Homo sapiens: one gene and its partner. The protein of the gene in region 1 interacts with the protein of each later gene in a biochemical or structural test. Each region holds a gene or a part of one and is shown on either strand. Other genes may lie near its edges. The genes, in order: PHF3 and CLK1.

Region 1 (3,827 bases):
CTTTCTGATTGCCACAAAGATTACATGGGGTGAACTTTACAGGTACTGAGATGCCCTGGTACTTTTACCTAATAGAGGTATGCATTCACTGTCTTAAGATGATTCTAAGTTTTTTTAAGTGTAAAACTTTTTTTAAAGAGCAGGTTTTTTCTTAAAACAGGAGAAACTGAAAGATGAAATTCATGTAATTCACTAGTTTGTGTAAGGCTGGTTGTACCTGGGACTGAGAATGGCTTTGGATCTACTACTCATTGAAAAATCTGCTCATTTTCCCTTTTTTTCCTCAAAAGGAAAACCTCAAATAGCTAATATGACCATACCTTCCCTATTCTCCATAAAATGTTTCAGTCAATCAGCGGTTACAAGATCTGCCTCTAACCCCTGGAGATGCTCATCCCTAATAGAAAGCTATATGGGCCTTGCCTATTTTAAAAACATGTATCAAGATTCGATCAGAACTGATTAAAGAATTTTAGATATGTAGAAAAAACTATTAGCGAAGAGGTGATCAAAAACTGACCTAAAAGCTTGTTTTCATTCATTAACCCACTCGTTTTTACTTTCATCTTGCAAAAGAAATCTGGAGTCTGATATTCCCTCAACCAGATATATCAGTAAAGGTAGATTTATTGACGATATACACATTTGAAATTGAAATGTTTTTAAAATGTGTAAAACCCTGACAGCAATTTCTTTGTAATGGTGCAAATTATAACTTAGATTTTGTTTTGTTTGGGAACTAACTTTGTTTTCTAACAAGTTAATTTCCAAAAGAAAAGTGGACCAAAGTTAAACGGGCTTTATTTAAACACAAGTTCTCTGTTTTAGAACCTTATGATAGTAAGTTTCACAGGATAAGGATAGGGAAAAAAGTACTGCAAGTCATTGCAAATTAAATAGAATGTTTGGTTCTGAATTTCCTCCCTTCTCTCCAGCAAAAATAACAAGGATAATTCTGTTTCAAAACCAATTTTTAACTCTAATCTTTAAGCTCTTTAGGAAAACAATCAATTTTGTGGAATTATTTATATTTTTCTTCATTAATACAGGTAAGTAAATAATAGAGTTCTCTTTCTTTTGTATTTTGGAAGGTTTTTCTTTTGTCAGCATCATTTGATAGCTCTTACTTTAAATTACAGCCATCAAAACCATGTGTTTTAGGGTTTAAATAAATTTAGATTTGAATTAACAATAGTTTTCATATTTTTTTTTCAAGTAAAACTGGCATATGAAACTGTACAGTTACTTTACGAATTAGGCTAAATCGCACATTTTATAAAAGGATTCAAAACATATTTCTCTTCAAGTTCTGCGGTCTTTAATTTTAATGATTAGTGAGTCAGAGTACCAAATTGCGATGGTGTAAAAGTTTTCAGAAACTTACCTATAAAGTGGGCTATAGCTGCACAGTGTTTCACAGGTAGTTCTAAATTCTAGCCTCTTTAGAACTACACAATTCATCTCAGCCTACAATTTAAGATTTTAAAAAAATTGTTTTTCCCCTCATCTAATGCCTGACATAGATAGCTATTTCTATATGTTCTTGGCTGAGTAACAAAAAATCAATGTCTGAAGGTAATTAAAGCTTTAAAGAAGAAATTCTTTTACTACTGAATTTCAAGTCACACACACAAAATAGGTGAGAAATTATTTTATCATATTTAGAATCAAAATATCCCTTAAAATATTTACATTTTACAGTAAAAAGGATAGCAAAACACAAGATCATGTACAAGCTTAAGTATTCAAGTTTCTGAAGAGCCAAAAATGAAAATGAAAATAATGGCCTACCACAAAGCTGTAGTATATGGTAATAAATGACTTCAATGAGTGCAGATTAAAGCAATAAATGTACCCCTTGGGCTTCTGATTCTTGGTCAAAAACTGCTCAACTAAATGATTAGCATAATCTGATTATGAAGTTGCTTGGATTTTTGTTGCTCCTCTACAGTTTCTTTAAAAACAGTGCAATTTAAAACAAACTTACAGAGCACACATTACTCCCAAATTAGTCATTATATAAAGGACATTCACTAGAGGAAGTAAATATATTCCATAGTTAACCATATTTACCAATTAAGGAATAAAACTAAAATTTCTAAGCCTTTATTGCATATTAATAAAACAAATCTTTGAATATACAGCAATGTAAAACTTTTAAAAATATTAAATTCCTATAACTAGGGACCGTTGGTATGAAGAAGGGATGATGAGCACTGGTACAGAGCACTCTGTACCAACACACAGAATTTACTGTTCTGCAAATGACCAATAGTAAAAATTTTAAAGATGGCACAATCCTAGCAGGCAATCTTTCTTTTGTTTACAAGATACAACATTTTAACAGTTATTTAAATGTAATCCTGAAGCAGCCTGCAAATTTTACCTTTTGCTTTTAGTTCTGTCAGTGTGGTCCCTATCTTTGTGGTACCTATCCCTGTCCTTTTCTCCTTCTCTGTGTTTACTTTTCTCTCGTTCTTTGTCCTTCTCATAGTCTTCACTTTTAGGTTTATCTGGCTTCTTGTCTACATTCCTACTATCTCTGCTTGCTTTTCCATCTGTTCCTCGATCACCATGTGATAACCGTGCCCTCTCTTTATCTTTGTGCCCTTCCTCCCTGCTTTTTCTGTCTCTGTCCTTGTCTTGGCTTCTGTCTCTGCGTCTATGCCTTTCAGATTCTTGCTCCCATTCCTTTTCATGTCGCTCTCTTTTCAAATGGTGTGAATCACTATAAAATCTCTGGCGGTCCCCTTTACCCCTATTAAATGGCCTATCCAGTTGCTGTTGGTCTTGCCTACCCCAAGGGTCACTATGGCGCCTTTCTGGCCTCCGAATGTCTTTAACCTGGTAAAAATTCTGCGGGCCTATATACCTTGATGCTTGTGAGAGAGGACCCATCATACGCTGTGGCTGACCTGGGAGATGAACAACAGGTGGCCAGGGAACCATGGGATTTTGAGCAAAGCCAAAGCCTGGAGGGGGAAGTAATGGAGGTGGCAAATGTGGTGGAAATCCAAACATGCTTTGTGGGGGAAAATTAGGAGGCCCTGGAAATGGAAATCCAGGTGGGCTAGACTTGAGATGCTGAAGGTTGGGCTGCTGTGGCCTCATGGGTGAAAAGTTTGTACTTGTTCTGGGGCTGGTGCTTCTGGAAGTAAAGGTGATGCTTTTAGAAGGAAATTCTGATGGACATGTGTTTCCAACTTCAAAATGAGATGTCGCTACTGCTGATCCTCTTCGAAATGGGTGCACAGTTTCAATATTTTGCATTAAAATATCCTCCTGTAAGGGTTTTGCTTGTTCTGCTTGAGAAGTCTGTATGTTTTCTACTGATGGTGAGTTTTGTGCAACTTTTAAATTGTCACTCTGCTGAACACACGAGTTTTTCTCTGCAGAACACAACTTTTCCTCTACATTGATTTGTTCTGTTAAGTGCTCCTTGTTGTGTGACAGGCCAGGCAGCATGTGTTTTTCTCCATTCCGGCAACTATCTCCATCTTTGCTTTCTGAAGTAGTTACAGGCTGACTTCGTCCTGCTGCTTGCCTAGGATCCCTTTTCAGGTTGATAAACTGTGGAGACCTCGCTGTATTAGCAACAAGGTTTTCACTACAGCTCACATTACCATCTATGTTTCCTTTTCCTACATTAGATCTGCATGGAGAACTATTTGAAGTCTGGTTATCTTGCAAATTATTCTCTTGATCTTCCTGAAGCTGTCTTTTTAATGTTTTCTCTTTACTCTCCACAGTTTCCTCTTGTTTTGACTGAATTGATAAATTTGTTAAAAATGCTTCTGTAGAAACATCTGGTGGCTTACCTCTGAGAC
Region 2 (3,827 bases), on another chromosome or scaffold:
GGGAGGCTGAGACAGGAAAATGGCGTGAACCCAGGAGGGAGAGCTTGCATTGAGCCGAGGTCACGCCACTGCACTCCAGCCTGGGCAACAGAGCAAGACTCCATCTCAAAAAAAAAAAAAAAATTAAGTTCTAATCAGCAGATGTGATCAAATGATACTAAGGATGTCACTAACTCTTAAAACGTACCTGGTTTTCTGTATCATATGTTTTGGTAGAGGTCCAAGAATCCTTTCCATCATTGCTAAATGCTCCTTACTATCGTGTGTCTAGAAATAAAATAAAAACAGACTTGGGGAAGATGACCACCAAAACAGACACAGTTAAAGCTGACAGCAAAAAAACTAACATTAAGGCTTGCAGAACAAACTCGCCAATGATTCCCTACATGGACACGGATAATTGCTTATATACTGAAAGATGTTTTAAATAAAACAATTATGAAAGAAATATGAATTAGTTTATTTATGCTTATCTACAATTAATAGTCTATAATGGGGGAAGCAAAAGTATTTATTCATATAAACAGGCACCTTTCTTGTGCAAAGCAAGGTTGAAATAGATCATTGTCACTTACTGGAAATACGGTAAACCCAAGATAGTATTCAATAAGAATGCATCCTATGCTCCAGACATCACATGGTTGGGACCACCCTAGGGCTGCAAAGCAAAGCAAAATTTAAGGAAAAAAAATACTCAATGTTTGTTAAAGAAATTAAAAAGTTAGTTAACACTAATACTTTAAAAAAAAAAACACATGTAATGTAGGCTGGGCACAGTGGCTCACACCTGTAATCCCAGCACTTTGGGAGGCCAAGATGGGAGAACTGCTTGAGCTCAGGAGTTCAAGACCAGCCTGGGCAACACAGCGAGATCCCACCTCTATTAAGATATATATATATCTGAATTGGCCGGGCACAGTGGCTCACGCTACAGGCATAATCCCAGCCCTTTGGGAGGCTGAGGCAGGTGGAACACGAGGGCAGGAGATCAAGACCATCCTGACTACACGGTGAAACTCCGTCTCTACTAAAAATACAAAAACAAAATTAGCCAGGCATGGTGGCAGGCACCTGTAGTCCCAGCTACTCAGGAGGCTGAGGTGGGACAATGGAGTGAACCCCATAGGCGGAGCTTGCGGTGAGCCGAGATCGCGCCACTGCACTCTAGCCTGGGTGACAGAGCAAGACTCCGCCCCCCCCCCAAAAAATTATATATATACACATATATATGCAATGTGATGTTTGAGCTGGAAGATCCTAAAGCAATCACTTAATCCAAGGTTAAATACAATATATATGGCCGGGCGCAGTGGCTTATGCCTGTAATCCCAGCACTTTGCAAAGCCAAGGCAGGCAGATTGCTCCAGGTCAGCAGTTTGAGACCAGCCTGCCAACATGGTAAAAACCCCATCTCTACCAAAAATAAGAAAATTAACCGGGTGTGGTGGTGGGTGCCTATAATCCCAGCTACTCAGGAGGCTGAGGCAGGAGAATTGCTTGAACCCAGGAGGCAGAAGTTGCAGTGAGCCAAGATTGCACCACTGCACTCCAGCCTGGGCGACAGAGTAAGTCTCCGTCTAAAAAATAAATAAATGATAAAAATAAATAAATTATATAGTGTTATATATAGTCTGGAATAAAATAGGCATTAAACAATTTTCTGAGATGGAGTCTCGCTCTGTCGCCCAGGCCGGAGTGCAGTGGCGCAATCTTGGCTCACTGCAACCTCCGCCTCCCGGTGTTCAAGCAATTCTGCCTCAGCCTCCTGAGTAGCTGGAACTACTGACGTGTACCACCACACCCAGCTAATTTTTTGTATTTTTAGTAGAGATGGGGTTTCACCATATTAGCCAGGATGGTCTCGATTTCCTGACCATGTGGTCTGCCCGCCTTGGCCTCCCAAAGTGCTGGGATTACAGATGTGAGCCACCGCGCCCCACCCTTGGCCTCCCAAAGTGCTGAGATTACAGATGTGAGCCACCGCGCCCCACCTGGCATTAAACAATTACATTTAAAAACCCTACCACATATTACAAATGTGAAAACAATTCCAGAAAGGTTAAGCCACTTGCTCAAATTCCCAGAGCTAATTATCTGGTACAATTGAGAGCTTAAAATCCATAATGCACTTCATGATACTTATCCCTTAAAGAGAATATGATAAAGCCCCACAAGTAAGACCTAAAACTGCTAAAAAAATTTTAAGTCTCAATAAGGAAATACAAAGGTTCTCAAAGGACAATTAATACTCACCTAAAATAACTTCAGGTGCTCTATAATGTCTTGTAGATACCAATGTACTGTGATGTTCGTCATCATATGTTGCACTACCAAAGTCTACAACTTTAATATCTGGATTTATTAAGGTGCGTTCATCACGTTTCTGAAAATCATAAATGATGGTTAAGAAGGCATAAGCTATTAAGGCATAAGATACTTTATGAATATTTTGGAAGACTTACTATTTTGGGATTATACGCCTCTGTGTAGTCAGACTGCACAAATAAGATGTTTTCAGGCTTTAAGTCTGTGTGAGTCAACTTATTACTGTGCAAAACTGAGAATAAAGAGAAAGTTGCTGTAATCAGAAAACACCAAACCAAACCAAATCACAAAACCCCACAACAGGCCGGGTGCAGTGGCTCACGCCTGTAATCACCTGAGGTCAGGAGTTCGAGACCAGCCTGACCAATATGGTGAAACCCTGTCTCTACCAAAATTACAAAAATTGGCCGGGTGTGGTGGCGTGTGCCTGTAGTCCTAGCTACTCGGGAGGCTGAGGCAGGAGAATCACTTGAACTGGGGAGGCAGAGTTTGCAGTGAGTGAAGACTGCGCCACTGCACTTCAGCCTGAACAACAAAGCGAGACTCCATTTCAAAAAACAAAAAAACCCAACAAAAAACCTCTGATTCCTTTCCCAAAGAATGGTCAACATTCCAGTCTGCTAGAAAATCACCAGTAACTAAAACTTACTACCTCTTATGAAGCTTTCTTTTATGAGATATATCACGCCTTAATTTTTACCCAGCATTCGAAGTTACTATTTTTGCGCATCAGAAAAGTCTAAATCATAGTCTGCAACAAAGTACGTTGTTATATGGTGGATATCCTACTTGCTGAATGAAATGTACACTGCTGGATCAACAGCCTGTAATCAAATCTCTTCATACCTATTCTTCCTCCCCCTTTATTTTTAATCAAATAAAAATTGTACACACTTAGGATGCACATTTTGATATGTGGAATGGATAAAACCAGCAAATTAACGAAGATATACCAAGAACTTACAATTCACAGACTTGCATATCTGATATGCCATCTTTCTGATATGATCCAGTCGAAATGGTAGAAAACCATTTTCTTTAATGAAGTCGTAAGTACTAAGTCCCAATAGTTCAAAAACAATGCAAATGTGACCATGATGCTCAAACCATTCCAACATCTGGACACAGCGGCTACAAACACATGAAAAATAGCTAAGTATAGTTGCTCCTAATTTAAATATACCTGATACCACTTCCCAAGTTCTAATCTGATACTTACAAAGTACTGTTGGGGTCTGTTGTATTCAGATGTTCCAGAACTTGTATTTCTGAGCGAGCAGCTTCACAGTATCTATCCACATTTTTAACTATTTTTACTGCTACATGTCTACCTCCCCTGTTAGAAAGATGCATGCAAATTTAAGAATGACAGACATGATGCTCAATTCCAGGTATTACTGTCTTCAAACTGTACTACTACTCTGACCCACTGTATTTTTTTAATTTATGGTTTAGTGTTCAGTTCTGATTCTATTACATGCTGAATGACACAAATTTCTTTC

The links.
Region 2: of the proteins of PHF3 (region 1) and CLK1, one has a biochemical effect on the other in vitro, tested with the Homo sapiens proteins (one large-scale study listed by BioGRID).

What each region holds. Positions count from the first base shown.
Region 1 is NC_000006.12:63,712,264-63,716,090, reverse strand, and holds part of PHF3 (PHD finger protein 3), read right to left. Parts: coding exon 2,383-3,827; 3' UTR 1-2,382.
Region 2 is NC_000002.12:200,854,429-200,858,255, forward strand, and holds part of CLK1 (dual specificity protein kinase CLK1), read right to left. Parts: intron 3,662-3,827; coding exon 3,545-3,661; intron 3,457-3,544; coding exon 3,290-3,456; intron 2,558-3,289; coding exon 2,463-2,557; intron 2,384-2,462; coding exon 2,254-2,383; intron 659-2,253; coding exon 576-658; intron 268-575; coding exon 188-267; intron 1-187. UniProt on the Homo sapiens protein: Dual specificity kinase acting on both serine/threonine and tyrosine-containing substrates.